7 separate regions of the Homo sapiens genome follow, and all the other regions are reported to be linked to region 6. Evidence: microRNA targets listed by miRTarBase, many of them from high-throughput screens and not tested one by one. Region 6 holds a microRNA gene; each other region holds the end of a gene's coding sequence.

Region 1 (4,516 bases), not on the chromosome of region 6:
TACGCCTGCTGCCTGCTCCTCTTGACTCGTTTCTATCACTGCCCGGCCCCACTAGGCATCTGAATTTGCAACCCTTGTTTTAAAGAAAGAGAAAAAAGGAGACATCTGTGTTCTAAAGATAAGATCAAACAGGGTTGAAAATATAAAATGTGATTATTATATTTCCAGAAAGTCCTCATTTTTTGGTATTAAGATGTAAGTTTCCTGGGAGAGAGTTGATGTTGTTTTGGTTTTATTCCTCATTTTTGACAACAGAGCAATTTGACCCAGAACCCTTAGCAACAGTCCTTTTTGGATGAAAATCTTTGCAGGGCCTTTTAATTAGGAATTGACAGGGTGATTAACTTATAATTCACAAAAATAAATGTGGAAAAGAGAAGTACAGGTCAATTTCTAGCTGTGTTAAACTGTAAGGACAGCACTATTGGCAAGTGATTGCTTCCTTTTAACAGCTTTTAAAATTTTTCTTAATTGGATCGTTTGTTTTCTAATTGGATAGGGAGAACCATCATATGGCTTTCAATTACTAGTTGTGGCATGGTGATCCTGTCATATGGCACATGCTAAGAAAGTCAGACTGTCAACATATAAGATGAAATATATACCATCTCCAAGCAGCTTTCTGTGTCAATAAGAAAGAGGGGAAACCTCTGATATCCTGGGTAGGTAAAGGCGTGCTGAAATGGGACATAATAACTAGCTTGATTTTCTAGGGACTTGTGTTTCCATTCTACAGACTAAGTTACAATTTCTTAAAATGTTTCATCATCATAACTAGAACTGACCCTAAGAATATAAGATTATAATTTTATTTCACACACAAACACATACATGAGAAAATGCTGGTCTCCTCAAATTAATTTTTTTCCTGCCCATTGGTGAATTTAGAGATTCTCTAAGAAACAAAGTTTCTCTATAGCTTTCTGGCTTTACAGCCTCTATGGGATCCCTTTTGCCTACAGGATAAAATCTGAATATGTTATCATGGCTGATATCTGATCCCAACATCTTTCTCTAGCTTTATATTCCAAAATTGCTAGGCATGCACTTCACCCTTTATTCACTGAACTTCTCACTTTTCTTTGGAGAATGTCAGGTCTTTCATGACTCTGTTCGTGCCATTCCTGTTTCCTGGTGTGTTTTCTGCATTTTTCTTTGGTAAATCTTGTTCATTGGTCAAGATTAGATAGAAAAGGTTACCTTCCCAATGAAGCCACATCTAACTCTGTAACAGAGTCAGAGGACAGTTACTGCCTGTAACTGAGTCTTTTGGTATTTGTCAGCCACTGAGCATTGTTAATATGTCTGGAATAGCTTCTGTTCTGTTTGCCCATTCATTCAACAATACATTTTGAGCATCTTTAAGTATAGGTGCCGAATCCTGGGTCTACACGCTTACCAAGATGGCTAAGGCACCTGATCTTGTATTGAACTGTAATTAATTGTTAGGGATAGTCTCCCTCACTGGGCTGAAACTACAGAGGGTAGAAATATTTGTCTTATTTAATATTTGTGTCACCAGTGCCTAGAATTTTGCCTGGTTCAAACTAGGAGATAAGGAAATGCTCACTGGTGTTTCATGACTTCTTGCTGGAGAATATTGACCAGTTATATGAAATCTAACCTTTTAGTCAACCTAGTATACTTATAATCTCAGCTTCTAAACATGGAAGACTTGATATGGCCGTCATCACTGTATTTGAGATGTTACGGAATCTAATAATAACTTTTTGGTGTAACCCTTTTTATGCCTTTAGTGTGTTAGGTCAGATCCTGTGATGGGCACTTTGGCTCAGCACGTTGGAATGGCCTTTTCCCAGAGAGGAAACACATTCTCTGATTAAATGCCCTTAGCAGGCAGGGACAGGACACAGCTGGGGTTTGAATCAGGCTAAATCCCATCAGATTGGAAATCAAGAAGCTGGTGCTTTTGAAGATTATAAATCTGGAAAGCAACAGAGACAAGGGGCTGTGAGTCCCTGCCCAAAGCAGGTAGTGCCACTTCTCTTTGGCTTTCAGTGCTGGTTCTCTCTGGCTGATGCTTCCAGAATAACTTTAAAGATGGATACGTGTGAAGGGATAAGATTTTAATGCTAGAACCACTAAATCTACTCTCCCCCAACGCTTCAAAAAGGGAAGTAATCAAAGTCTTGGGAAAGACCTAATTGAGAATACGGAATGGCATGGAAATGAGAACGACTTGAAATAGAATGCCAGAAACTCTTGTTTCATGTCTCCATGTTTTTCTGAAAGGCATAATTACAATTTTACTTATAAGAATCACTTAAAGCTAGCAAGTCTGCCAGCCCACTGTTACTGGTGACTTCAGATCATGGAGTTCTGCTTCATGCGACTTTTTTTCAGCTTTTTGTATGTGTATACATCCCACTGGATGAAACTGCACTTCAGCACTTATTGTGGTGGCTTCTCTGTTCTTGGCTACAAGCCCACTTACTGGCGCCATTGCTAAAATGAAGACATTCAAAAGGGACAAGGGAGTCCTCTGCTTCCTCAGGCAGCTCCATGGATGTTGGAGCTGCCTGCACATCTGGCTATCTCTTGAGCAGACTCTCCCCGTCTCCTGAATACCCCATCTAAACAGACAGCCTATGCCGTGGAGCTCATTATTGCCCTAAGTGTTTGCTCTGGATCTGTGCTTCACCCGTTTTATTTACATGTTTTATTTTTCATTTTATGAACAAATCGATAACTATACTTACTCTTTATCACACTGGATTAGTTTTATTTATTCTGTTTGAATTTGATTAAAAAGCTGTCAAACGTAAGTCTACATTTTTATCAGCAGAATACTTTCATAAAACCAGTATGAGATGTGTTCAACTAGAACATACTTTTCAAAATAAAACAATGTTTGATATATTCTAGACAGTTACCCTTTTGTTTATCCATGACAACTGAAACTATCAAATGGATAAAGCAATCTAAGTCTAGTCAAGTAATCCTTAGGGCATATGAAAAAAAAGGCTTTAAAAAAGTTCTTTCTAGATGGATTTAATGTAATTCACCAATAAAGCATCCTCAGAAGTATAATAAAAATTCTACATAAAATGACATAGCCAGGGAAAAGGAAGATATACAGTTTGATGAAGATTCAAAATGGATGTTAGCATTAAAAATGAGCAGTCATGCAATTCCTGTGTAATATAAAGATCAAAATTGCAGGGCACTAATTTTGCTTCTAATTTATAAGATAGTGTGTTTATGGGACTACATTTGTATTTATAAAAAATTCAATGGCAAATGCTTTGAACTGTCATTTTTCTTGAGAAAAATTGCCATTCAACATGTTATATTTATAAATTTCACTGTATAGCATTGAAAATAGCTGGACTATATTTATATATACAAAAATGTTCTGGAAAGATGAAATATATATGTTTTGGTTGTGAACCTGATCTCCTTCGTTCAATTTACAAATTAATAGCTTCTGCCTTCCTACCTCTTTGTGTTCTATCCGTGTCCAAGTAACAGTATGGAGTCATGTTTAAGGCAGCCTGGATCTTGGGAAAGCACATGTGTGCACATGCACCCCTACTCCCAACCACACTCACTCACATCTCCACATACACAACCACACACCCAATTCCCTGGAGCAGCATTAAGGCCATTTTTTGAATATGTGCTAGTCTTTGCATATTATTTAATAGCATGAGGCATGCATGATGTGCTCCTAGAAGTGCTAGAAGGCATAGCACCAAAGGGGTTAATGTAGAACACATAGAGGCAAATATTGTCAATTATTTTATTCAAATGTTTGGAACTTAAACACAAAATCATCATTAAGTTTTCACAAAATGAGGCATCTGTCGCTTGAAAGGCAAAAAATATTTCAGAAATATGTTTACAGAAATGTAAAAATATTAGGCATCAAGACAGATGTGAACGTATTCAGTAGCTTGTCTTGTCTGTCAGTCTTCCTCTGAGCCGAAGATCTTACTGTACTCACTCAGCATGAGCTCAGCTATCTGGTTCTGGTAGACCATGTGGATCGCCATGTTTCCTGTTTCATTTTCAGCTCGCAGAAGGGTAGGTCCAAATACAATCCCCAAGCTTTGCGTGGACATGAGGTTCTTGGAGGCTTTGGCCACTATCCTGTGGAGAGAGAGAAAAAAAAATAATTTCACTGGAGTTTGAAGTGAAGTTATGGCTACTTTGGAGTGATTAAAAAAGGTTTCTCATTCAGGAAAAGTAACTGCATTATAACATTATTTAATCTTCTACCCTACATACTTTACTGTATGGAAGTAGAACCTATGAGTTTTGGGGAAAGGATACATTGCCTTGTCCAACTTTTTACCCCCATAATAGCTGAGCATTGTGGGTACTCAACAAATATTTGTGAAATGAATGAGTATATTAAACAGCAAAAATGACTGTGAAATTAATAAGATTCAGCCTTTAAAATGCTTAGAGACAATTGAGGAAACAGGTGAGAGGCATGCAAAAAAATATATATATAAGAACCCAAATGAAATAACCAGAACAATGTCTGCAC
Region 2 (4,503 bases), not on the chromosome of region 6:
GCGCTGCCGCGCAGAGAAAAGCAAGGTTGCAGGCTGGACGCGGTGGCTCACACCTGCAATCCCAGCACTTTGGGAGGCCAAGGTGGGAGGACTGCTTGAGCCCAAGAGTTCGAGACCAGCCTGGGCAGCATAGTGAGACTTGTTCCTATTGGAAAAACAAAACAAGTTGTGAAATGAGGGAGACCTTATTTCCTCATGACAGGCCTGAGCCCCCTGATCCAGTCAGGACAGAAGAACCTACCTTGAGATTCATTTTTATTTTTTGAGACACAGTCCGCTGTCACCTAGGCTGGAGTGCAGTGGTGCAATCTTGGCTCACTGCAACCTCCACCTCCTGGATTCAAGCAATTCTCCTACCTCAGCCTCCCGAGTAGCTGGGACTACAGGCTTGTGCCACCATACCTGGCTAATTTTTTTTTTTTTAGACGGAGTCTTGCTCTGTCACCCAGGCTGGAGTGCAGCGGCACGATCTTGGCTCACTGCAAGCTCCGCCTCCCAGGTTCACGCCATTCTCCTGCCTCAACCTCCCGAGTAGCTGGGACTACAGGTGCCCGCCACCACGCCCGGCTAATTTTTTTTTGTATTTTTAGTAGAGACAAGGTTTCACCGTGTTAGCCAGAACGGTCTCAATCTCCTGACCTCATGATCCGCCCACCTCAGCCTCCCAAAGTGCTGGGATTACAGGCATGAGCCACCGGCTGGGATTACATGCATGAGCCACTACGCCCGGCCTAATTTTTCTGTGTTTTTAGTAGAGAAGGGGTTTCACCATGTTGGGCAGGCTGGTATCGAACACCTCACCTTAAGTGATCCACCAGCCTCGGCCTCCCAAAGTGCTGGGATTACAGGTGTTAAGCCTCATCCCCATCCCACCTCCCACCAAAAAGACACGGGCAGCCAAAGGCAGCGTGGGCGGTCGTTGGTATACATCATACATTTATTAGTGAATATCCCTCTGAAATCAGCAACAATATTAAAAAAAATAATGATTGCACTACTTGGTCAAGCAGAACTAGCAACTTTCATTTTAAAAAAAGTACAAATCTGTTAAAAATTTCAATCAGTATACACATATATATAATACAACATACTAGTTATGTTAAATGCTACAAACCAATGTGAATCCCATGGAATGGAAAAAACCACACATTTAAGCTTTAAGAACCATTTTTTTCTCTATATATTAGCATTTTCTCAAATACATACATGGGAAAAATGAGGTAACTGTAAAATGTGCAAGGAACAGGGCCCCCAAAATTACATATATTTCTACATATATATGTAATTTTATATATATATAAAACCTTTCTAACACAGAACACAGGCGCTGGGCCCAGCCAGGGCTGGGGGAAGGTGCCCACTGTCATGCCTAGGCCAGAAGTTGGTAAATAAGAGAGTAAACAATGGCAAGCCCCCACCACAGGAAATCATTGGTAACATGGCATCTATAGCAAGGTCGGCAGATCACAAACATCCTAAGTAATTGTTGTATAAATCTTGTTTTTTAATGATGATCTTTTTAAATGCTGTGTTTCCCCCCCAATAGCTGCTTGTTGGAATCACTGCTGCAGCCGACACACAATCTGTGAGCCTGTTTCCGCCTGCCCCAGGAACTGTAAGGGGTTTGAAAACGTTTTGTTGGGGTCGGGAAGGGAGGGGTTGGAGAGGGTGGTTCTGTGTAAAACACGTGGGTTTTCAACACTGCTATAAATATAGAAACGTCACCTGGAGTTATATACAGTAAGACTTTGGGTTCTCCATGGGGGTGGGACCAGGCTGACGGGCCCCACGGCAGGCTGGGGCGGGAGGTGGGAGCCAGGGCCACTGCGAGGAGAACGAGGGTGGTTGGAGCATCCCTGAGGCAGCAGGCGCCAGGGGCTGCCTGCTAGGATGTGCCGGCCCCACACGCAGTTCGTTCAGGGCAGCAACCCCAGCTGGGTATAGGACAAGAAAGGATTGGGACCAGGGAAAGTGGGTGGGAAGCTCAGCCAGACCCTACAGCGGCCTCCTCCAGAACTTGGAGGACAGGGATCAGGCTGGGAAGGCCCCCTGGAGATGGGGGTCCACAGCCTTCCTGGTCCCCATCCTCCTGGGACTTCCTTGGAGGAGATTCGCCCAGGCAGGTGGGAGTTGGGCCCTGGCTGGAGGGAGAAATGCCCTGAAAAGCGTCGGGTCCCGGTAGGCTCTAGGGACGTGTGCAGTACAGTGCATGGCAGTTATCAGCTGAGCACAGACCCCCAACCCTGCCCCACGACCGCCGGCCGCCCAGCCCAGCCCGGCACACGCATGCATGCAGGCCGGCCAGCATGACCGTGCTCGGCCCCCTGGGCACTCGGTCCCAGTTGGTCCCTATACCCGCCCCTATTAAACCAAAAGAAAAAAGAAATTGTCTTAAATATCCACATCCCCAAATCCTACACGTGATTTTGGGCCAAATGAATGAACAAAAACTGCTGCTCCTCACGTTCATGCAAAACAACAGAGGGAGAGGAGATTGGGCACGGGTCTGGCTGCATCCCTGGGAGGGACAACCACCGGGAACACAGGGCTCCCTCTCCCCGTATGGCCCAAGCCCCTCAGGATACGTGTGCCCCAGCTCGGGATTAGGCTGGGACGCCCTCCAGCCTGAGGGTGGGGCTGGAATGTTGTTCCTGGGATGAGGGTCCCCTAGGGAACCAGACTCAGCCCTCACAGCAGCCAACACAGAGCCAGCTGCCTGAGTTCACTGTTCGGGGTCAAGGAGGGGGGATTCAGCCCTGGGGCTCAGGAAATGGCTCGTGACACCGTCTGTCTACGCACCTGGCAGTGCCACCTGGGCAGAGGGCACGCCATTTCAGAGCATGAGACCTTCTGACCCAGGATGGTGCTCTGTCTGCCCATCCTGGGGCCAAGGATCTCCACCGGCCCCACTGAGGGAGCGGACCCCTGGCACTCAGTGCCAGCAGGAAAAGGAGGGACCTGAGGGTGCACAGGAGGGAGACCCGATCAGGGACACTCAGGCAGCTCCGTGGCGGGCGGGCAGGCAGGCAGACTAGGGAGGGAGTCTTTGGAGCTTGGCAAATGCAGGGGCTTATTGCAGGGACTCCTCGCTGGGCTGACCCTGGCACCAGCTCTGGAAATGCAGGCAGGAGCGAAGGGGCAGGCCTGGGCCACTCCCTCCCCATCCTCCCTGGGCCCCACCCACAAGTTTCCAGAGCTTCAGGCAGGGTTCTCCCGGGCAGGCGGCTGCGTGGCCTCACTCAGCCTCCCTGGGCACCTCGGAGGCGTCGGCCCGGCAGATGGGACACGTCCGGTTGGCCTGTGGGAACATGCACGTCAGGCGTTGCTCTCACCAGCCCCAACCCACCACATCTGTGCAGCCACCTGGGGGGACTTGGTCCGCTGGAGCCAGAACTTCCGAGATGATGACAAGGACAAGGAGGGAAACAGCCCAGGCCAGCCCATCCCCCCGTCACTGCATGAGGAATACCCAGGAGCAGACCTGGGCAGTGTTACCTTCAACCACTTGTCAACACACTTGGTGTGGAACTCATGGTTGCAGGGGAGGACTCGGAGCAGCTGCCGCGCCTCGAAGTCACTGAAGCAGACCACACACCTGTGGAGGGGCGCGGAGCGTCACCTCCACGCTGAGGGCCATGGGAAGGCTCAGTGGAGTGTGACTCCCCTGAGAGGGGCGTCCCACGGCAGCCAGCTGTGTTCAGAGGGGTGGGAGGTGGGGCAGGGTACTCACAGCGTCTGCTCCGACTGATGGCTGTCCGGGTTAAAGCGGTACGACGGGAGCTGCTCTATGTCTGCTTTGGTGAGACCCCGGGGCTTGGCATCTCCCAGCCGCTCGGCCAGGTTCAGGAGGGCCTGCATGCGGGCAGGAGACGGGGTCAGCGGCGCCCAGGGCTGCAGGTCTCCCAAACCCCACCTCCCAGCATGGGGCTCCATGGGACCTCATAGTTCTCCATCTCCACATCATCCACGTCCAGGTCCAGGCTGATGGTGGGCCCCATTGCTGTTGGTGACATTGGCAGCATCGAGCTAGAGAGAGACAAGTGTGGGGGCCCAGGGTCAAGGTCAGGAGTGGGGCACACAGAGCCGCTCTCCTGACTCCCTCCTTGCAAACAGAGCCCAGAACGTTGCAGCGGGGAAGGGAGCCCAGCTGGCGTGCCTGTCAGGTTAAGGGGGGAACGCCAGGTGGCTTCAGAGGCCCTGGGGCCCCTGGAGCTGTGTTTAGGTCTAACCACTGGAGGTTCCAGGAGAACAGGGCATCAGGGACCTGGGGCGGATGTGCGGATACTTACAGGAAGTAGGGCAGGAAGCTGGGGTAGTAGGGTGGTGGGGGTGGGGGTGGGGGCGGCGGGGGCAGTGGCTGCTGCAGGCGGTATCTCTGGGTGCTCAGTCTCCGTGGCATCATGTGAGAATATGGCTGCAAGAGGGGCCAGGTGCAGGTCAGCCCAGCAGGCCTGCCTCCCAGCCGCCCCGGAGCCCAGGTGCAAGTCAGCCCGGTGGGCCTGC
Region 3 (4,438 bases), not on the chromosome of region 6:
TCTGTGGGGAAAACTGGCCCCATCTGACTCGGGTGACCCCCATGGGTGGGGGATGCCTTGCCCAGGCCAGGGCCACCCTGCCGCTCTGCAGAGGGTCTGTGGCCTCAGCTTCCTTCCCAGTCAGCCCGCTCTGCCCCCAGGAGGTTCCCGAGGCTAAGGGGAAACCCGTGAAGGCTGCGCCTGTGAGGTCTTCAACTTGGGGAACAGTCAAGGACTCACTGAAAGCCCTCTCCTCTTGTGTCTGTGGGCAGGCCGATTAGCTGGAAGGGCCGGGCTCTGATGCCCAGAGGCTGCAATTCCCAGGGCCTGGCCCTGCTTCCCCAGCTAAGCAGGAGTCTTTTGTGCTTGAGCCAAGGAAACATCATTAGATCCGCTAAGGGGCATCTGAAACATCCGTCGAGTGGCAGAGGCAGGATAAGTCACCTGCACATGAAGAGACTCATTCATTCATACAGCAAATATTACTGGTACATCTTCCACATGCCAGGCCCTGCAAAGTGCTGGGGAGATACCATGGTTTTCCTGGAGCTGGTATTTTTGGGGTGGAGGGAACCCACCCTGAATAAATAAAGTAACCCAATAAATAAAGAAGATGATTTTGAACAGCGATGAATGCTCTGCAGGAACTGAAACAGGATGCTAGAGGGAGAGTGATTGGGGTGAAGACCTTTCCTGATGCAGTGCTTGGTAAGGGCCTCTCTGCGCAGGCAACAAAGTGTGATCTAAAAGATGAGAAGGGGCCAGCCCTGAGAAAATCCACCCTCCCCAGGGCCACCTGCTGTCATCTTACCCCAGGGCAGGCCAGAGCAGTGGTCAGAATGCCCCAGCATGACGGGGAGGGGCAACGGGTTTCTTGCTGCCATCTTGGCTCAGAGGCGAGTGTGTAGGTCACTGCAAAGGCAGGGGATACCACGTGGGGAGACTCGAGGGCCATGCCAGTTGGGGCTGGGAGGCTCAGGGAAGTTGGCTCCAGGAGACTCCATCCCATAAGGCAGCCCAGGTGGGACCTGGGGATCTGAGATGGGAAATAAGGGGATCTGGCTTCTCAAAAGGGAGGGAGGTACTCAAAAATAGAGTATCATGTTTGAACGAATGAAAACAAGACATGTTATTTATTGAGCATCTACTGCATACCAGGCTCATGCTGCCCTCTAGGGATAGCAAAAAAAAAAAAAAAAGGTGGGGGGAGGAGGTTCACCCCTCAGGGCAATCGTGTTCCCTGAGCAGGAGGTGGAGTTACTGGTGTGGGTGTGAAGGTGTCTGTGAGTCTAAGGCATGCACAGCACTGTGAGAAACCCTAAAGCAACCTATTTAAGGAAGTCAGTCTCAAAGCTCCCAGATAAAAATCACTGGGTTTTTCTGTATTTATTTTAGAGACAGAGTCTCACTCTATCACCCAGGCTGGAGTGCAGTGGAACAATCACAGCTCACTGCAGCCTCAAACTCCTGGGCTCAAGTGATCCTCCTGCCTCAGCCTCCCGAGTAGCTGAGACTATAGGTGCACCACTACGCCCAGCTTGACTTCTTTTAGTAGAGAAGAGGTCTCACTGTGCTGCCCAGGCTGGTCTTGAACTCCTGGCCTCAAGCTATCCTCCCGCTTCAGCTTCCCTAAGTGCTTGGATTATAGGTGTGAGCCACCGTATCTGGTCATTAATTTATTCAATGACTATTTTACTAGGTTCCTACAAATACTAGCTGCTAACATTTAACATGTAATTGACCATTTACTCTGTGTCAGAGAAACAACATGGGCACTGTATTTGTGACCATTTTATAGATTAGAGAGCTGAGGCACAGAGAGGTTGAAGAATGGACTCAAAGTTCCATAGACTGGTACCATTGAGATTAGAACTCAGGCAAGTCTGGTGCCCATATTCTTGCTTGTAACTGTAAGGTATATACCCTCTCATCCTGGTAGCGTCTCTTCTAGGCAGAGGGGACACACAGAGGATAAATGTAACCCTGTCCTCAAGGAGCTCACAGCCAGGTGGGGGAGGCCAGAAAGAAAGCACACAATTGCCATAGCTTCTGAGAAGTGCAACAGTAAGGGCAACACAGAATGATGCTGGAGGACAACCAGCCCACTCTAGAGAGAGGAGATCAGGGAGGACTTCCTGCAGGAAGTGATGCCGAAAATGAGATCTGACCGGTGACTAAGCTATACAAAAGGGTGGGGTGGGGGAGCAAGTGGGGAGTGCTCTGGGCAGAAGGACCAGTCGTTCAGTCTGGCTAGGGTAATTGTCATTCATTCATTTATTCACCAAGTATTTATTGGGCATCCACTGAATGCCAGGCTTTGGGCTAAACCATGAGATGGAGCAATGAATAAGACAATGAGGCCCAGCCACAAAATAGTTTATCCTCTAGTTGGGGGAGACAGGCAATGCACACACACAAAACAAACAGATCAGAAAGGTGGCAGGAGGCCAGGCGCGGTGGCTCATGCCTGTAATCCCAGCACTTTGGGAGGCCAAGGAGGGGGAGGCGGGGGGAGATCACCTGAGGTCAGGAGTTCGAGACCAGCCTGGCCAACTTGGCGAAAACCCGTCTCTACTAAAAATATAAAAATTAGCTGGGCGTGGTGGTGGGCACCTATAATCCCAGCTACTTGGGAAGCTGAGGTGAGAGAATTGCTTGAACCTAGAAGGCAGAGGTTGCAGTGAGCCGAGATCTCGCCACTGCACTCCGGCCTGGGTGACAGAGCAAGAGCAAGACTGTCTCAAAAAAAAACCAAAAAAGTAAAAAGAAAAGAAAAGTGGCAGAAGCTGCATCAGGTGAGGCCTGGCAGGCTGCAACAAGACCTTTAGATCTTAGATCTTATTCCCAGATGGCAGCACTGGAAATTGTGAGCAGACAGCGTCATGGCCAGACGTACCTTTGGAAAGGATCCCTCCGGGCCTTCTGACTGCAGGGAGGAGGCACCGGAGGCTGAGTCTTAATCCTGAGAAAGGAGAGCAATGGTTTGGACTAGAGAGGAGGACGCAGTACAATCTGGTCGACATATGCCCATTCTACTCTCCTGAAGGCCCCAAGGACAAGGCTGCAGAGGGAGTTTGAGACCCTCAAGGAGAAAGGAGACCTGTGGCTGCACATCCGGCTTTTCACCAGCAGGTGTCGCCCTCTCATCAGACTAGAGGACACTGGGTCCAGGCCTGGACAGGGAAGGTGTGGACCTGCTGGGTCTGGGACTAAAGCCTTGGGGCCAGCCAACCAGTGGGTCTGTTTTTCAGAAGCCAGACTCATTCTAACCAATACTCCTTTCATCCAGAATAATGAATGTTTACTTTATGCCAGGCACCCAGCAAAGTGACATTTCAGAATTGAACCCTGGGGGGTCTTGGTGAGGATTCAGAGGAACCAGGCACTTATACCACTTATACTTGCTCCGTAAAGGGAGCTGTCATCATTACTATTGATGTCGTCAGTTACTATAGCTGTCGTCATTACGGGGCAATTGAATATACACCCCACACCCCATCAGTTCACCTGACCCCAGTCATGTGAGGTCGGCATGATTTCTCTTGCCATTTTACAGAGGAAACTGAGGCACAGAAAGGTCGAATACTTTGCCCAAGGTCACTAACTGGAAACCGGTAGAGCCCAAATCCAAACCTCAGGCAATGTGACTGCGCACTGCGCTTGCAGCCCCATACTGTGCTGTGAACACACTGGTCACAGCGGTTCAATAAGTGAGTGAAGAATGATCCAGCCTGGCACCCGGCAGCATGTGGGGAGTGTCCGGAGACTGAATGGGTGGTAGGGCCCTCGCTGAGATGGAGCACACAGGCGGAGTAGCCAGTGGGGACATGGGGAGATGACAGGTTCAGGAGGCGGATGTCGTGTGAGGGACTGTGGGACATGCCGGAGGGGATGTGGGCAGGTGGTGACCCATTCCCCATTGGAGCTCTGGTCAGAGGTTGAGGCTGGCAATGGGGCTGCATTGGTATATAGGTTGGTGATGAAGTTGCTCTGGGAAGGTGAGGTGTGAGACCAGGTCATCAGGCCTGTGAGAAACCAACTTACCTGTCCAAACCCAAAGAATGGGCTCAGAGGCACATAGAACAGTGGAAGAGAGACTTTTAATGATGGTCTTACGAGATCGGGTGTCTGGTGGGCAGGCACACCCAGCACAGTTACAACAAGCAATTTATCCCCTAGTGCGCAGGTCCCTCCCCTGGTTCCTCATAGGCTGAGTACTGTAGGATCACAATCTTCCTGGATGTCGCCTATTGGTTGTTGGGTAGGAGCTTTTAGGTGTTTTCTTTAGGATTTTCTTGTTGCATTTTGTTGCAGCCCACAATACATTGCAATCATAGCCAGCTTAGGGTTTTCTTAAGTATCTGACTTATGACCTAGGTAGTCAGGCAAGCTGATAAGAATAGACAAAGCGAGCTATTTTGCAGGCTAGTGAACTTTCATTCTAGACTCAACTTTTTTG
Region 4 (4,516 bases), not on the chromosome of region 6:
ATAGAAAAATAAACAGGAATATATTCAACACTTACAAAAAGTGATATGATAAAGAATATAAAGTACTAGTTTCCTTTTAACACTTCAAAAGATATGTATATATACTTTTTTTTACAAGTAACATCACAAATGATCACATCTTCACATGCTCTTAAAGTATTATTTGTACTCAGTGTAAGGCTATTATCGTTTTTCATACATAAAATTTTCTAGCTCTGTAACACAATGCAATTTTTAATCCATTCAAGTAAGTTCAACCCCAAAGTTGCCGCTTCCCAGCATTAAGACATGCACCCACCCCTCTTCTAAGATTTTCTAAAACTTGTATTTCGGGGAGAAAGACCTCTTTTAAAAAATAATCCCAATTAGTGGGAGAGTAAATGGCTGACATTAGTAGCAAAACCTTAGTTATCTGAAAATAACATATTGGAAATGAGACATTATTAGGATTTTAAACAAACAATAGCATTTAGACATAAAGTAGGAAGCAAAATACAGTAAACAGAAATAGTGTAGCCAAATATGCATTCTCTTCAGCTACACTAGAGTGGACCTTGCTTAGTACCCTTAAGTAAAAGACAAAACATTTACCTCATCTAAAAATGAAGGTAAAACGAAAGAGGCAAAAATAAATATTGCTAGTTTCTAGGATGGCTGAATGTTTTCTAAACCAGAAATGGTTAGAAAGGAACTTTATTGCACCAAGTCAATCATAAGCAAGTTTGCAGTTCACAGGCATTTTAATTCAACCTTGAGTCACAAAGGAAACAACACGCTGCAAGAATACAGTCTGCATTAAATAAGATATATCAGCATTGTGGTCTGGGAAAACCTATGCTTGCCAGGACAAGGCAGGGTCTGAGCTTAGGTCTGCCATGAAAATGAATTTGTGGGTTATCAGTAAACAGTATGAGGACTACACAGATGCCAGCATCCTGCTGCCAAGGAGACATGGGGCAAGAGTTGAAGATTTGAGAGGAAATGAAGAGACATACACAACACCAAAGGGAAAAGGGGGCTGGAATCAAGTTCAGCCAAAGCACCTAACACAAAAAACAGGTGAGCTTTGGTCAGTCTGTTCTTCAAAATATGTATGATCATAATATGGTGAAGTTTCATAATTTCCAACTCAAAAATACAAATGATCCTCAGTTCTATACTTTTGCCTCTATTCTCTTATAAAGAAATATGTCAACATAACAGTATGACATAACAGTTAAAATGAAGGACAAAAGCTTGCTTATCCTTAGTTTGACCTCAGCATAAGGCAAAATCCCCTGGACTAATACATTTAAAAACAAACTTAAAGGAAAAAAAGCGAAACCAACCTTCATGCAAAGATTAATTTTAAAACTATCAAAAGTCAGTTCTTTTATTCCAGAGGTCACTGAGAAAAGTACCATCTGCTAAAATTCTCTTTCAAGCACTTCTTCCATCATATCCTAGAGGTGAGATATGGGAAACAGAAAGCAAATCAGTGTTTCCTTCAGGAGCTATATTCTGTTACTCAATTGAGGTAAGACAAAGTGACAATGAAGATATGAGTAGTATTTCCTTCCAATTTTTAAACATTTTCAGAAGCTGAGATCAAACCCCAGTCAATAAAATGCAGGACACTAGAAGCAACAACTTATTTTGGACTCCTGAGATCAAACACATTGAACTTTCAAATCTGGTGTTTGTATCAAAATGTGATTTTCATTAAAATCAGGTAAGCTAGTCCTACATAAAAAAGCATGAGCTGAAAGTGGAGGACCCTCTATCTTCTCATTCCTTAACTGAGCCACCGATGTTAAGAAAAAAATGGCTTAAGCGGTACCTTCAACAACTATTCTAGTTAAGAAGGTGACAACAAATTCCTTTCAATAGGTTCTCTCAAGAAAAGTTTTCCACACAACCATCCCAGTCTTTACAATTTTTTACCTAGCACCATCATAATAAAATGTTATCTTTCAAAGTGCTCTCTAAAATCCTGTTACATTATCTAAATGCTAATCACTACTCAAATCAGCAGTTACACAGACGTTAGGTAATTAAAACAGCACAGAGGTAAATAACCATTATTACAGTACAGTGGCGATTCACTAGCCCAACTGGCATCCAAACATTCCCATAGGTTATCAGAGAACCCAGAAAACCCATCTGTTTCAGTTTGTCAAATTCAAGTGAATTGTATTTTCTTAAGTAATTTGCTTTACAAAAAAAGAAAGTCACCGCATCTGGTTTTGGCTAGGTATATTACACATGGCATGCAAAGAGAAATTACTACTATGTTATTTGCATAGCACTCAAACTTCCTGATCAGAAGATAATCTCAACATAATAAAAGAGTGGATTTTCACATTGGTATGCACAAATAAAGAATATAAGCTACAGTTATTTTTACAAAATAACACAGATGAATGAATACTGTGTTAATTCAGAGTTCAATCTCCAAATGAGAACAGAGTGCAACATGCAAAGGGAACCTCTAGTGAATACTGCAAAGACTGGAAGAAAACAGAATGTAAGATGTTACCTACCTAAGGGTAACAAGCTATAAAATACAAAGCAAAACCATTTTCTAGCAGCATCCTCTAGAAAAGAACTAGAAGTCACAATCATATTATCTTCTATACAATAGTTCCAGCCCTGACAAGTAGAACATGCAAGTGTAAAGTGAAAGTGATACACAACCAATGGTGCGGGGGGGGGGGGGAGGAAGAAAACAACTCTAGAAACCTGTCAAGCTAAAAATTTTTAACATTTCTTCTCACAAAATATTTAGAATCTGTCAGTGCATTAGTGTTAAAGTGGCATTAAAAAAACTTCTGCAGTTCTAACTGATGCAGATTATTTTCAAAATGCATAGCATCTACATTTCTTTCGAGTAGGCACCATGATATTTACACCAGTGCTAAGAATTCTTGGTGGAAACAGCCATTTCATTGGATTTCCTACTATTCTTCTATGCAATCTCAACAAATACCAAAATTCAAAAATATACCTTATGAATATTAAAAGAACTATATACAACATTGCTAAGACACAGTTAATAGGCTGCCTTATGTGAATATTAAAGAGAAGACATTATTCAAGTTTGACAGATATTGAGATGAAAGGCCTTTGGGTTGGAAGCATTTTAAAAGACAACAGTGTTTTAGGCTGAGAATTGTTTGAGCCCAGTTTATGACTAAGGCATTGCATAATAAAATATACATTTCTATTTGGTGCAACGTTATGTTTGGAATCTATAGTGTGTCAAATGGTATATTTTCTTGTCACTTTAGTAAACACTATAAAGCACACATTTCCAACATCTGAAATCAAACTTATAAACTTATAAGGAAAAAAGCCAAACACTAAATCTATAATGTTTTATATTAAGCTGTTTATAAAAAATACTTTAACAAACTTATCTTCTACTTTTTACGGGGACAGTCACTTGATCAACAAACAGATTCTGAATGAAGAAAACTGGCAATGCCAGGAATTAACCTGCCCCCTTGAACTCATGTCCAAAATGTCTTGTCCAGTATGGGAGTGAAGGTAAGGGGGGCTGGGGAGAGGAAAGAGTTCCAACTGCGGTTTTTACTTTATTGTATTTTTTTTAAAGCCTTCAGAAACATTCCACCTAAGAGTTTCTGTTAGAAAATACTTCGGCAACAACCATCAAGTGTGCTGTCCCCTATGGCCATCTCCCATCCCTGATCTCCTCCTATCTCCCCTAAATGGTCGCCCTCTGACATTTCGATGGTACTGATAACCTTCATCCCGACTTCTGCTTGGCTGTCCTTTCCAGGACTCCTCACTTCTCACATGTTGATATCCACCCCTACCAGAATAGCCCCAATCACTTTTGTACTTCCTGCTTCCATAAGTTTGATTATAGAACTGCTTGGATCTACCACTTCTCAAAATATTAGACACTTCATTTTCATCTTCTGAACTCTCTTCTTTTGGTCTTTGCACTCTGCTATCAACAGAGTTGGCCCCAGGGCTGACCACATCAGCAGCAGTCTTAGGATCTTTTACTTTTTCTGTTTTTTCTTTCAGGCTTTGAATGGTCCTTTTAGGTTCAAGTTCAACAGGCACAGTTTCTCTCTCTCTGTTTAGAATCTGAGTGGGAGGATGAGCCTTTCCCTCTGCTACAGGAGGGATGGAAGCCAATGCCGTATCTGCCTTTCGTGTCTGGGAAGATTGCTCTGTCCGGCCTTCGTCCGGCTTACTGCTCACACTTGCTTCAGGGAGAGAATGTACATGTTCACCCCTGGCTTCTGGAAACTCATCTACTGTTGAAACTGAACCACAATCTTTAGACAGATCCAGATTTTCCAGAGACAGATCCAATTCTCCTTTTTCATCAGAGGGCAGGACAATATTCTGCCTCATTACTGGATTTTCTATGAATCCCTGAAAAGGGTACCCATACCAAACATGAGGAAAGAAAGGAGGTGCAATAGGAACTGGGCCTAAGAATGGATTGGGTCCAAAAGATGGCTGGGGGAACATATTCTTGCCACTTAGTGACTCTTCA
Region 5 (4,516 bases), not on the chromosome of region 6:
TTGCACACTGTATTTCTAATGAAGGTTTATAAATTTGGAACTTAATTGCTTTTACAGTATTGACAATACTGTTCAAGGAATAATTGGGATACTTTTTAAGGCTATTATTTTAACAAGATATTAGGAAGTCTGAAAAGTGTATAAAAACTCTTAACAGTTGCTAGAAGTAGAAATGGACACGAGTCAGTAACTTTTATTCCACTGTTAACACTCAGATTTAATGTTACCCTATCTTGCTTGGGGGCTTTATTTCTCAATTTCTAATTGGTAATTTGGCATGATGTAAACAAACAAATCATTACATCTCCTTTTAACTTACCTGTTAAACAGTAGCACAATATTAAGTGTATATAACAATTATTCCGTGAAAAAAGTATTACTCACCTTTAATCAGTTATGTACTTAAGTTTAATGTGTAAAGATATTCTTGATAGAAAATAACATTGCACAATAAGACATTTTTTAGTGAGGAAAGTGTAGTTACTATATATTTGCCACATGAATTGTAATGTTTTTGAGAGAGAATTAAATGATGTAATAAATATATATTTGAGATAATATGTATTTTTAAAGGGCATTACAAATACAGTGATGATTTGATTTTTAAAAATATATTTGCAATATTATGTGACAGGTAACATACTGCTAACTCCAGGGCATTGGCAGCTCCTGTACCAAAACAAAACTGGAATAATTGGCAGTGTAATTTGTGTTCTTACAGTTTTTAAGATTTTATATAATTTGGTCCTGTAGCTTTGAAAGTTAATTATCTTGATCATTTATATATTATATTGCCCAGAGTGCTAATTTAATCGATGTGTTTTTTATAGAAGAGGAAGATGCTTAGTACCTTCAAAACATTATTGAATTATTACATATATAATTTGTTAACTACGTACAATTATCATAAAATTAATTTTTGCTTTTTGTTTTCTTGCCAATAATAGACGTCTTCCATGTATGCACCTTTTCCACCAAGTGTGTGTTGACCAATGGTTGATTACCAATAAGAAGTGCCCCATATGCAGAGTGGACATTGAGGCCCAGCTGCCAAGTGAAAGTTGACACCATGTTTCAGAACTCTTGCCCTCCCTCTCATTCCCATCCTTCCTGGTACTGCAGTCAACCAAAGATGGCATGACTTACCTGCGCAGATTTGGAAGCATTGAACTTAGAGTGCTGGCTCTGCTATATGGTACAACTAATGCTAGACCTACAGTTTATGTATACAGTTGATTTTGATGTATTTATAAAAGCTTTTTTTTCTAGATTTGACATTTTTCTGTATCATTTTACTGTATTTTTGCATGGTTCCTTGTATTGCATTTCTTTGCACATATTATGGGCTTGTGACCCTAAACTTGCAGGCAAGGTTAGCTGCTTTAGTAAGTAGAATTTTGTGGTCTTTTTGTTTTTTACATAGTACCAAGCCTTGATAATTATGAATTTTTTATCCATTACTAACCTTTAATTTAATCAATCATGTACTTTAGTTTAATGTATAAAGATCCTCTAGAAAATGATAATATTGTGTATTAAGACATTCCTTAATTAGGACAAAATGGCTGCTGTATATTTACTATATGGAGTTCTGAGTTAAATACCATCCTTAATACTGGGAACAGAATACAACCCATATAAATCAGATGCAGGTGGTAGTCACATCACCAGAGTGATCAGTATAAATTTTCTTGGTGTATCCTTTTCCTTTCAACACAGTGCAGATAAGAGTTGAATATTGATATCATACATTTAGACTGCTGTTCTGATTGCATTTATCTTTTTCCTACATCATTTAGAATTTTATTTCCCTGATTCAGTTTTTGCTGCTGTGAAACAGCTCTGATGAACACTAAATATTAATTTCAATTAGCTAGATTGTACATACTTGCAGATTTAACAAAATTTTAGGGAAATTGAAAAAGACATGTAGAATTTGTTGTCTTCTGCTAAGCACGAAAAGTTAAGATATCTGCTTACATTGATTTTGTAGACACATTAAGTCAAGATTTGGAATTTAAGTCACTGGCAGGTATCTGTGCATTCATAGAACTTATAAAGGTCCCAGGATCACTTTTAAGGGATTTTTATTAGTTTAAAGGTAAATAAAGTCAGCTGAATCTACATGTCTCTTGTTTTATTTCTCTCTAAACTTGAAAACAGTAAATCTGCAGATACTGTGAGGCACAAATTATACTGTCAACCTACTGTTGCTATGGTTATATACTCCCACTTCATACATTACCAAGAGTCGATCACTGATTTAAAATTTTTAATTTCTATAGTTAAGATTTACTGCATAATATAGAATATAAAGTTAAGTTAACATACTAACATTTCTCCTTTGGAGGAAGTTTTAATCTACTTCAGGATGCATATTATTATCAAGATACTTTCATATACAGGATAGCCTAATTTTATTTGTTTAAATATGCTTAATATGCCCCAGATTGCAAATGCATCCAGTCAGTAATATCACTGTCTGTATGTGGAGGACATGTTCCCATGGATCATATGTGAAGATGTCAATAAGCTTGCATTAAGCCACCTGCTTTGTAAGTGGATTGATTAATAAATAACTTATATTTCTATTGTCTTTGTGTTTCATAATTAGTTTTTATAAAAACAGTTTACATTAAACATCTTGGAATTCAACAATAGTGATCTCACTCAAATTGACATTTGCATAATTTGACATTTATATTCATTCAGTTATGACTACTTGCCCTTTTCTTCATATTAGTAAATGTTACACTGTAGTAGTTGTCAATGTTAACAGGCTTCAACATAGTATGTGTGCAGATGGACGATGGATTTAAAGAGCATACCTTATGATTAAACCGAGGTTATAGAAGGTCAGGGGAGAGTGAAGGAGTCAGTGACCTATGTCTGCCATCTTACTGGGGAAAAGAGCAAGTAGCCTGTCTTCCTTTAAGTAAGTAGCCTGTAATGGATGTACTACTTTGCCACTGGAATACCCCGGGTCTGTGCCAAGGGACTGAAGAAGTGTAAGATGGGGAGAACTGTATGTCATGGAGTCCTCTTGACGTTCCCCCAGATACAAGTAAAGCACAGGTGGATTTCTCTATTTTTGAATACTACATCAGATTTAGATGCACGACTACCTGTTGACTTGTTTTATAATTGCTACTGATTTTTTTAATGTAGGCAAAGCTTTGTTACTTTGAAATTTATTTAATAAAAGTATTTGTGACATAAACCTGAATTGTTAATATAGGAGCTTATTAAGCTACTGCCATTAGTTATCGAAAAATGTGATAAGTAATGAAGAAAGTAAGGAAGAAAATGACTTTGAACATTTTGACTTTTTGTGCTTTGTTTTGGTGTCTTCCATATCCTGCTGCATCTTATATGTCAAAATGAACATTTCAGTGGTAGCTGTCCAAATACATAAAAACTAAAATTCTTTTGTTAGCAAGTCCTTATTTTTATTGTTGTTAACATGCAAGTGATAAACTGATAATTTGAAACATTTTTCTTACTCTGGTGACTTTCTTTTAGCTGCTAGCACACTTCAGCATTTGAACCATAACAGTTGTGATAAACTGATCGTTTGAAACGTTTTTCTTACTCTGGTGACTTTCTTTTAGCTGCTAGCACACTTCAGCATTTGAACCATAACAGTTGTGATAAACTGATCATTTGAAACGTTTTTCTTACTCTGGTGACTTTATTTTAGCTGCTAGCACACTTCAGCATTTGAACCATAACAGTTGACTTAGAGAAAACTACTTTTGTTTTAAAAACTGTTACTTGTTCACGCCTGTAATCCCAGCACTTTGGGAGGCTGAGGTGGGCAGATCATGAGGTCAGGAGATCGAGACCATCCTCGTTAACATGGTGAAACCCCATCTCTACTAAAAATACAAAAAATTAGCTGGTCATGGGTAGCGGGTGCCTGTAGTCCCAGCTACTCAGGAGGCTGATGCAGGAGAATGGCGTGAACCTGGGAGGCGGAGCTTTCAGTGAGCTGAGATAGCGCCACTGCACTCCAGCCTGGGTGACAGAGCCAGACTCCCTCTCAAAAAAAAACCACAACTGTTATTTGTAACTAGATGAAACACTAAAATATAAGCTCTTGAGGATATTTTGTTATTAGTGTTTCATAAATGGGAATAGTTTAAATCTGTAGAAAATACATCCTAGTTTCTAACTTCCAAAACCTCTGGGAACACAGTATATGTGTGTCAGACACACACACACACACATACTGTGTTGTTGTTATATATATATGTATATTTGTTGTTGTTGTTGTTGTTTTTGAGACAAAGTCTCCATCTTTTGCCTAGGCTGGAGTGCAGTGGTACGATCTCAGGTCACTGAAACCTCTACATCCTGAGTTCAAGTGATTCTCGTGCCTCAGCCTCCAGAGTAGTTGGGATCACAGGCGCGTGCCACCACATCACTGTGGCCGGCCAGTATATATATGTATATTTTTTGAAAACTTCACATGTCACAATATTTAATATGTCATTTTTTCTCAGTCATAGATATT
Region 6 (4,516 bases):
ATATTATTTGTAACCATTTTAAGCTGAAGTATAACCTATTGGAAATGCAAAAATTTTTTAGATTTTAGTATTTTTCCCTCTGTTACTCTTAATTTATAGTTTATATCTAGAGTTGTACCTGACTAGTTTATCAATTTGAATGTATATTTTTCTTGAATTCATATGCTCTCTTTAAAAGAAGATTTCTTGAAAAGTTTAAGAAATTAATATCTATTGAAGTTACATGGTTTAACCTATATTTAAAGATGAATAAGGGAATGAAAATCAGTTATTTCCATTTGACCTTTTTATTTGTGCCCACTAGAGATCATGAAATTTCAGTTTTGATAAAAAGTAATATGCACTTTAAAAATAGTGTCATTTTCTATAGATCTGTTCATTGTGTGCAAGTACAGGTCTCTGCTTTTGTTTTTTAAAGTGACAAGAGCTATAATACTTTTGAAACACGATTTTTTTGGTATGTTAATGATCTTTTTTGAGAACAAGAATTTTTTTATGATTAAGAGCCATAAATTAAAACCATGATCCTAAAGTTATCACAGACCTTGAGGTTGGCTCCCTTGTAACCTCTAAAATCCTTAGTCATCTCTGAAAGTCTCACATTCTTTACCCTCCTCTTCTCTGTACTTTCCACACAGAGAAACTCTAAAGTATTATCTTTTATCAGTGTAAGTCTTATCAGAAGCCCCAGGGAAGAACCACCCTACTTCTTGAGAGCCAGTCTTTTAACTCAACAGAGAGGTTCTCCTTCCTCCATTCTAACCTTACTGCTTTTGCTTGGTTTACTTGATTCTTGAAAGCACTGTTCTGTCTAAACATTTTTAGGTACTACTGTGGCTCTTTAACCAGTACTGTCCCAAAAGAAAGACTTGACTGAATCTACTACCAACAAATAGAAATTCTAAATTACTTTTTTTTTTTTACTTTATTAACATATCAAGCTCATAGAGTATTAAAAAAGAGCCTCTTTTTGTAATGTTTGTCCAATGAGAAAAGTTTTTTGATAAATGTCATATGTGGAACAGTGTAACATGATTGAGGGGAAGAAGAACCAGAGAATATAATTACCTTTGGAAAATTTTATACTGTTAATTGAACTTGTAGTATAAAACATCTACAAATGTTTAAGCCAAAGTCAATCTCTATTGTGTGTAAATACCTAGCTTCTGTTTTTAATCCCATATTTCATAGCAAAATTCAGATATGTTCATTCTAAATTTACATTTTAAAATTAAATCTAGTAAGTTGATATTTAACAAACATTCCTTAATACGATAATTGCTAACATGTTTGGGAGGAAGAATCTCTGATACCTGAAGAAAGTTATGCCTTCTTTTCTCAGATTAATGCAGATGTGCACATACATGATATTTTGCATGAAACTCTAGATTGTCTCAGAGCTCTTAAAGTTAAATCCTTGAGCTCCCTAAAAGTCAGAAACTCTCCCTGCTGCATAGAAAATGAGTATTTTCAGAAAGATATGGGTGGATTATAATTTACTAAGAACATGTCAATGTGTCAATCAAGAACTATCCACAGTGGTTGGCCTACACATTCTCTTTGTCAAAAGGCCTACATTTCTATGGAAAGGAACTTAATCCATAAATGTATTCCATAAAATCAGAAAATATGGGATATATTTTAAAAGCCTTTGAGTAAGGTAGCTGAGTATTGCCCTTGGGAACTGCTCTCTCCGACTACCTTCAGGACTATGTCTAGGTAAATAGATGTATATCTCTAGATATATAGCAACACCTAGGATCATTTTAAAATTAAATTTTCTTATCACTATTTCCTTAATATTTTTCTTTTCATATAACTAGTCATTAGTATGCAGATCTCTCTCTGGAAAGAAGTTCTTTTGAGCCAGGAGTAGTTAAGGGGCCTGCTGAGAGGACCGCTTGAAATTCTGACTGAGTGTACATGTCCCATGGGTTACTTGGAAAACAAGGATTATTTGTTTAGGTGGTTGTCTAATTAAAAGCAAAACTCGAGAAGAAAATACTGCTAGACATCTTCTCCAGCCCATCTTTTATGTCATTATGAATAATTTGAACTGTGTTTTATTTTGTCTGTATCCATTAATATGATAGAAATATTTGAATGGGGCCTGTTTAATGAATATACCAATTGTGTCAATTAGTTTAAAAATCTTGATTAAATAAGCAGAAGTCAGCCTTTTATGGGCAAATACAAGTCACTTTATGTTTAGGGTGGTATTCTAGAAGAGTCAGTTCTAGAGGAAGTGTGTTTTCCTCAACGCTCACAGTTACACTTCTTACTCTCAATCCATTCATATTGAAAATGATGAGTAGTGACTGATGAAGCACAAATCAGCCAAACTCTGTTGGTTGTTATGGTTTGATATCGAGGTGTTTCACTGTATGCTTTGGTTCTTACTCATTTCCAGGAATCACTCTGCATGATGAACCTGTCGACTGGGCGGCAGCAGGCGATCATGTTAGTCTTACTTTGGTTGGGATGGATATCATCAAAATCAAGTGAGTGAGAAAATGAGTTTAAGCAACCGTTGTCTTCATATAGGACCTCACCTCTAAACACATATATTTTGCAACCTGCTAGTTCAATTTTGAATTTCATTTGACCAAAAATAGACACCTGTGTAAATGTAAGCAAACTTACTTAAAATTTGAATTAATACATGTCAGCACACATACTTGGCATGTGCTTTGAGTGAAAGCTCTAATGTATAAAAATGACATAAGGTTAATAATGGTTTAAAGTCATGCTTTAGCTCAGAAGAGAATATTTAGAAAAAGTCCCTAATTTACTTAATTGTTTTACTTTCCTTGTAAATGTTTTTGAGGTCTTTCTATTTGATGTAAATTTGTCCCCCAATTACCTTTCCTCTTTTTTTGTTGTTCTTACAGTGTTGGCTGCATATTTTGTGGCCCCAAAGTACCCATTAAAGCTTGCACTCGTTTCAGAGCCCGAATCCTCATCTTTAATATTGAAATTCCTATCACTAAAGGATTTCCTGTAAGTTCCAAAATGTTTTATTATTCCTGTTTTTATAAATTCAAAGTAACTTTATCCTAAAAGTGGTAACTTTCTTTACAAGTGGTGATACTATATTTATTTTGAATTAACATCTTATTACTGTAATCCAGAAAAACTTATAATTAGAAAATCGTTTTTATTTTGTTTTTTATTTTGATCTTTGAGCCTGAGGACTTTTTAAAAGGCATTGAGAAGATATTTAATAATAAATAGGATACAAAGTAATGATAATAAAATTTATCCAGGGAAAAATGATAGACACATTTTCACTGTGTTCTAAAGTTTACTTACTTCTAAGTTTTTCTTAGTTACTTCTAAGTTTTTTAGGTTGAATCATTCTGGGTTTCCATTTTTAATATGTCGATTTGCAGTTTTTCTGATAATAAAAGTTATAGATTGCATAGAAAATTTTGGAAAACTTAAAAATATGGAAAATAAAAATGCCATATACTTGCATAATCCATAGATATATATCTTTACATGTCAGTGTGTTTTTATGTGAGCATATTATCCACCCAGTTGGTATGTATTGGGTGTATTCTGGGGATCCTAGACATACAGTAAATGTCTGGGGATCCTAGACATTCAGTTGTGCTGAAGCAACACATTCAGAACCTGCATGTTGTAAGGTTGGTTTGCCAGCATCATTTGAACATATACATTTTATGGGAAGAGGGAGATTTTATACAATAATGTTACTTATCCTGAAAAGCTGTTACTTGTGAATAGTCTGGATTTTTTGTTTTATGTGTAATTGTTTTGAGATATTTGGGACCGTACTCTTATAGTTTTTGTACTTTGCTTTTGTCACGTGACAGATGACCATTTTTCCCATTAGACTTTTTTTTCTAATTAGCTCATATAGTACAGATTCTGCATGACAATAAATGTTTCTCAGTGATGTTTCTACCATTTGATGCATCTTTGAAATAAAAGTAAGAGTTTTTAAAGTTAGTGATAGTGGTTTAGAGGTTGGCAATACATTTATTTGGGTCATTTATACTGATACACCTATATTTGAGATAACCTTGTACTTTATAATTCTTTGTAATTATTTCTATATTAATTTGATCATGTAAAATTATATTTTAAGGTACTATTTAGGTACTTTACTTACATAATTATATTCCATTTCTTCCATACACTAGAAAAGAAAAGCTTCTTTTAAAAAAATTGCTATAGTTGAAGATACTTAAATATTCAGAATTCATGTATTGATCATCAAGTAACAACAAGTTAATTGTTGTGAGCGAATGGAACTCATTCACAGAAAGCAGTATGTCCTATGAGGCAAAGGAGGGGTTGGTTACTGCATATTTTTACTCATGCAATAATAATATTTGCCAATGGAGAGGTAGAGGGATGAAGAGGTCAGAAGTGACTTTGAATAGTAATACTGTCTCCCTGACTACTGTAGTTTCTTAAAAATAAGCATGAATTGCAAGTTTTTCACTGTTGCTTTAGGAGATTCTGCCAGCATATATTGATTCAGAAA
Region 7 (4,000 bases), not on the chromosome of region 6:
CGCATCATTTTATGTTAGAATTGGGGGTCAGAAGTTGTTTCCTAACAATCATTGTGCATTGTTTCAGGTCAGGGCCAAAACTGGAACCAAGGATTTAATAACTATTATGATCAAGGATATGGAAATTACAATAGTGCCTATGGTGGTGATCAAAACTATAGTGGCTATGGCGGATATGATTATACTGGGTATAACTATGGGAACTATGGATATGGACAGGGATATGCAGACTACAGTGGTAAGAATATTTAACTTAATTTTATAAAGCAGTGGTATTAAAATTCATTGTTAACATACAATCCTGTTCTGAAATTGTGTGTATGGGCTTTCCATTAAAGTGTTCGGAGTTAAGTGTTTGAGGCATGTTACAATCATAGGATGATTATACTAACATAGACTGGTGGTTATAAATGAACTAGGATGTATGATTTATGAGTAGCATCTAATGGGTGCTAAAATATCTTAATACTTTTTATTTAGCATGCAAAGATTTGTAGATTTAATAGTTTGTGTTTGTAAAGAAAGTTTTGTAGAAAACTATCTTAATGAGAATTCTGTGTTTTCAAAATAGGCCAACAGAGCACTTATGGCAAGGCATCTCGAGGGGGTGGCAATCACCAAAACAATTACCAGCCATACTAAAGGAGAACATTGGAGAAAACAGGTGTGTATAAGAGTACAGGAAAACAGTAGAAATGTCTAATTTAATTTAAAGATCAATAGACAAATGAAACGTAAAAACAAAATACTATGTAGCCTGTTTTTACTAAATTGTTGATTTTTTAATTGCTTTATGAGCCTGTTTTGCCTAAAGTGTCTATAGATCTTTAACTTTAAAGTCTTATCTCACTTTCTTTAGTATTGCAGAAAAACTTAAGAGTTTTTCTGTTTGCTTTTGTGTACCAGGTGGTCTAGAGGAATAATTAAACATTTTAGAACTATTAACAGGTAAAGTACTGAAATGGGTACAACTTAAGGAAAACAAGAATGTTGTCTTCTAACTCTGACATTATACCTTGTTTGTACCCGCCAGCGGGAACTTCATTGCAGGCCGTGTGTCACCCTGACCACGTCTATCTCTGGGGGTCGCACGTTGCGGGCAGAGCGCAAGGCATACACCAGAAAACGCTGTCCTGTGGTATGGTCTCTTCCAACTTCATGTACCAGCGTAAAGATTAAAGTGGAAAACTTCAGACTTTGGCTTCATTTTTAATCTTTTTGGAGATTAAGTGTCTAAACTTAACTTAAATGGTTTTTTACAGGAGTTAAAGTACATAAATGCCTTTTTACAGCTTAATCATTTTGGTCTTCTGTTTAGTGTTGTATTTCAATTGTGGAGCCTCATTTTAAGTGTTCATTCTTTTAAGATTTAATGCTTGCTTTTTCTTTTTATAGCTAATAGTGAAATCTACAAACCAAAACAAGAACTTTTAAATCTGGGATATAAATTAAAGATCATATGCACAGATCAATTTATGTTCTTGTAATAAACTTATTAGAAATTGGTGTTTGTGATAGCATTTTACTTGGGTTACTAGAGATGCTTCTAGTAGACCTTAATCTAGCATAGTTGAACCTCTGAATATGGGAAGGTTGTATTCCCAGATTCTTTCCTGAATAGATTTGAATTTAATGTCATTTGGGAACTCCAGGGTGAGTTTATTGACTACCCAAACTGTATTTTACCAATAAATATGCATATGATCTTTAATTATTGAAGAAAATAAAGTGAGGACTTAAAACAATTCATGAAAGTGGACCTTTAAAAGCTTGTCAGAGTTGCACAAATCTAACTGGTATTTTGTTTTTGTTTTTAGGAGGAGATGTTAAAGTAACCCATCTTGCAGGACGACATTGAAGATTGGTCTTCTGTTGATCTAAGATGATTATTTTGTAAAAGACTTTCTAGTGTACAAGACACCATTGTGTCCAACTGTATATAGCTGCCAATTAGTTTTCTTTGTTTTTACTTTGTCCTTTGCTATCTGTGTTATGACTCAATGTGGATTTGTTTATACACATTTTATTTGTATCATTTCATGTTAAACCTCAAATAAATGCTTCCTTATGTGATTGCTTTTCTGCGTCAGGTACTACATAGCTCTGTAAAAAATGTAATTTAAAATAAGCAATAATTAAGGCACAGTTGATTTTGTAGAGTATTGGTCCATACAGAGAAACTGTGGTCCTTTATAAATAGCCAGCCAGCGTCACCCTCTTCTCCAATTTGTAGGTGTATTTTATGCTCTTAAGGCTTCATCTTCTCCCTGTAACTGAGATTTCTACCACACCTTTGAACAATGTTCTTTCCCTTCTGGTTATCTGAAGACTGTCCTGAAAGGAAGACATAAGTGTTGTGATTAGTAGAAGCTTTCTAGTAGACCATATTTCTTCTGGATTGTAATAAAATTGTTAGTAGCTCCTTTTACTTTGTTCCTGTCTCTGGAAAGCCATTTTTGAATTGCTGATTACTTTGGCTTTAATCAGTGGTCACCTAGAAAAAGCTTTGTAATCATAACACAATGAGTAATTCTTGATAAAAGTTCAGATACAAAAGGAGCACTGTAAAACTGGTAGGAGCTATGGTTTAAGAGCATTGGAAGTAGTTACAACTCAAGGATTTTGGTAGAAAGGTATGAGTTTGGTCGAAAAATTAAAATAGTGGCAAAATAAGATTTAGTTGTGTTTTCTCAGAGCCGCCACAAGATTGAACAAAATGTTTTCTGTTTGGGCATCCTGAGGAAGTTGTATTAGCTGTTAATGCTCTGTGAGTTTAGAAAAAGTCTTGATAGTAAATCTAGTTTTTGACACAGTGCATGAACTAAGTAGTTAAATATTTACATATTCAGAAAGGAATAGTGGAAAAGGTATCTTGGTTATGACAAAGTCATTACAAATGTGACTAAGTCATTACAAATGTGACTGAGTCATTACAGTGGACCCTCTGGGTGCATTGAAAAGAATCCGTTTTATATCCAGGTTTCAGAGGACCTGGAATAATAAAAAGCTTTGGATTTTGCATTCAGTGTAGTTGGATTTTGGGACCTTGGCCTCAGTGTTATTTACTGGGATTGGCATACGTGTTCACAGGCAGAGTAGTTGATCTCACACAACGGGTGATCTCACAAAACTGGTAAGTTTCTTATGCTCATGAGCCCTCCCTTTTTTTTTTTAATTTGGTGCCTGCAACTTTCTTAACAATGATTCTACTTCCTGGGCTATCACATTATAATGCTCTTGGCCTCTTTTTTGCTGCTGTTTTGCTATTCTTAAACTTAGGCCAAGTACCAATGTTGGCTGTTAGAAGGGATTCTGTTCATTCAACATGCAACTTTAGGGAATGGAAGTAAGTTCATTTTTAAGTTGTGTTGTCAGTAGGTGCGGTGTCTAGGGTAGTGAATCCTGTAAGTTCAAATTTATGATTAGGTGACGAGTTGACATTGAGATTGTCCTTTTCCCTGATCAAAAAATGAATAAAGCCTTTTTAAACAAAATCCAAACTTTTAATCAAGTCTTGATATGTATGACTGAGAAAAAATACACTACATCTAGAGATGATTGAGATGTTTTGCAAAGAATTGAAGGGGGAGTGAGAATTGGTTTTTCTTGCAGGGGCTTTGAACTCTAGATTTGGGCTTTGAACTCTAGATTTAATTCAGATTTCAGGGTCTATCAGTTCACCAACTGATGCAAATTTGAACAGATACTCTAAGGCTAAGTGTCCTAGGTTGGATGAACTGAAGCTACTATCAAGATCTCGTTCCCAAGGATTAATTTAGAACAAAGTAATTGGACAAGTTTATTGGGGAGGGGATAGAAATGAATTCTAAAGTACCTATAACAAATACTCTGTGTATGTTTTTTACATCGTATTTGCCTTTTACATTGTTTAGACCAAATTCTGTGTGATGTTATCCTCGGGAAGAGGATAGAAATTAATTCTAAAGTACCTATAACAAATGCTCGGTTTGTATATGTTTTTATACATCGTATTTGCCTT

Evidence for each region. The annotated mature microRNA hsa-miR-3662 reads GAAAAUGAUGAGUAGUGACUGAUG and lies in region 6 at 2,301-2,324, shown strand. An mRNA with a match to its seed (bases 2 to 7 or 8) in the 3' UTR can be bound and repressed. Matches are read on the target gene's strand: a 7mer-m8 pairs with bases 2 to 8, a 7mer-A1 pairs with bases 2 to 7 and ends in A, and an 8mer does both.
Region 1: the mRNA of ARHGAP15 is a reported target of hsa-miR-3662. Seed matches in the 3' UTR shown: 7mer-m8 at 3,813-3,819.
Region 2: the mRNA of RNF44 is a reported target of hsa-miR-3662. Seed matches in the 3' UTR shown: 7mer-A1 at 1,228-1,234 and 7mer-m8 at 1,213-1,219.
Region 3: the mRNA of SRARP is a reported target of hsa-miR-3662. Seed matches in the 3' UTR shown: 7mer-A1 at 1,768-1,774.
Region 4: the mRNA of OTUD4 is a reported target of hsa-miR-3662. Seed matches in the 3' UTR shown: 7mer-A1 at 1,939-1,945, 7mer-A1 at 1,603-1,609, 8mer at 1,218-1,225, 7mer-m8 at 879-885 and 7mer-m8 at 600-606.
Region 5: the mRNA of RNF111 is a reported target of hsa-miR-3662. Seed matches in the 3' UTR shown: 8mer at 1,288-1,295.
Region 7: miRTarBase lists HNRNPDL as a target of hsa-miR-3662. Seed matches in the 3' UTR shown: 7mer-A1 at 2,020-2,026 and 7mer-m8 at 3,353-3,359.

Annotation. Positions count from the first base shown.
Region 1 is chr2:143,767,586-143,772,101 of GRCh38, reverse strand. ARHGAP15 (Rho GTPase activating protein 15) reads right to left here. Exons shown (of 14, transcript NM_018460.4): 14 at 3,750-4,113. The coding sequence ends at 3,930. The region is part of intron 2 of ARHGAP15-AS1 (ARHGAP15 antisense RNA 1); the gene reads left to right. Among named protein-coding and RNA genes, the nearest start is that of ARHGAP15-AS1, 6.3 kb to the left of the region's middle.
Region 2 is chr5:176,525,793-176,530,295 of GRCh38, forward strand. It overlaps RNF44 (ring finger protein 44), which reads right to left. Exons shown (of 11, transcript NM_014901.5): 7 at 4,290-4,414; 8 at 3,939-4,026; 9 at 3,731-3,852; 10 at 3,496-3,595; 11 at 920-3,298. The coding sequence ends at 3,236. Among named protein-coding and RNA genes, the nearest start is that of RNF44, 9.4 kb to the right of the region's middle.
Region 3 is chr1:16,006,087-16,010,524 of GRCh38, forward strand. It overlaps SRARP (steroid receptor associated and regulated protein), which reads left to right. Exons shown (of 2, transcript NM_178840.4): 2 at 1-2,721. The coding sequence ends at 260. Among named protein-coding and RNA genes, the nearest start is that of SRARP, 4.1 kb to the left of the region's middle.
Region 4 is chr4:145,133,779-145,138,294 of GRCh38, forward strand. It overlaps OTUD4 (OTU deubiquitinase 4), which reads right to left. Exons shown (of 21, transcript NM_001366057.1): 21 at 1-4,516. The coding sequence ends at 3,652. Among named protein-coding and RNA genes, the nearest start is that of ABCE1, 38 kb to the left of the region's middle.
Region 5 is chr15:59,093,836-59,098,351 of GRCh38, forward strand. RNF111 (ring finger protein 111) reads left to right here. Exons shown (of 14, transcript NM_017610.8): 14 at 948-3,584. The coding sequence ends at 1,065. Among named protein-coding and RNA genes, the nearest start is that of CCNB2, 9.1 kb to the right of the region's middle.
Region 6 is chr6:134,977,163-134,981,678 of GRCh38, reverse strand. It overlaps MIR3662 (microRNA 3662), which reads left to right and starts at 2,247; the gene lies at 2,247-2,341. It overlaps HBS1L (HBS1 like translational GTPase), which reads left to right. Exons shown (of 18, transcript NM_006620.4): 14 at 2,411-2,501; 15 at 2,892-3,000.
Region 7 is chr4:82,422,701-82,426,700 of GRCh38, reverse strand. It overlaps HNRNPDL (heterogeneous nuclear ribonucleoprotein D like), which reads left to right. Exons shown (of 8, transcript NM_031372.4): 6 at 68-238; 7 at 572-664; 8 at 1,818-4,000. The coding sequence ends at 642. Among named protein-coding and RNA genes, the nearest start is that of HNRNPDL, 5.8 kb to the left of the region's middle.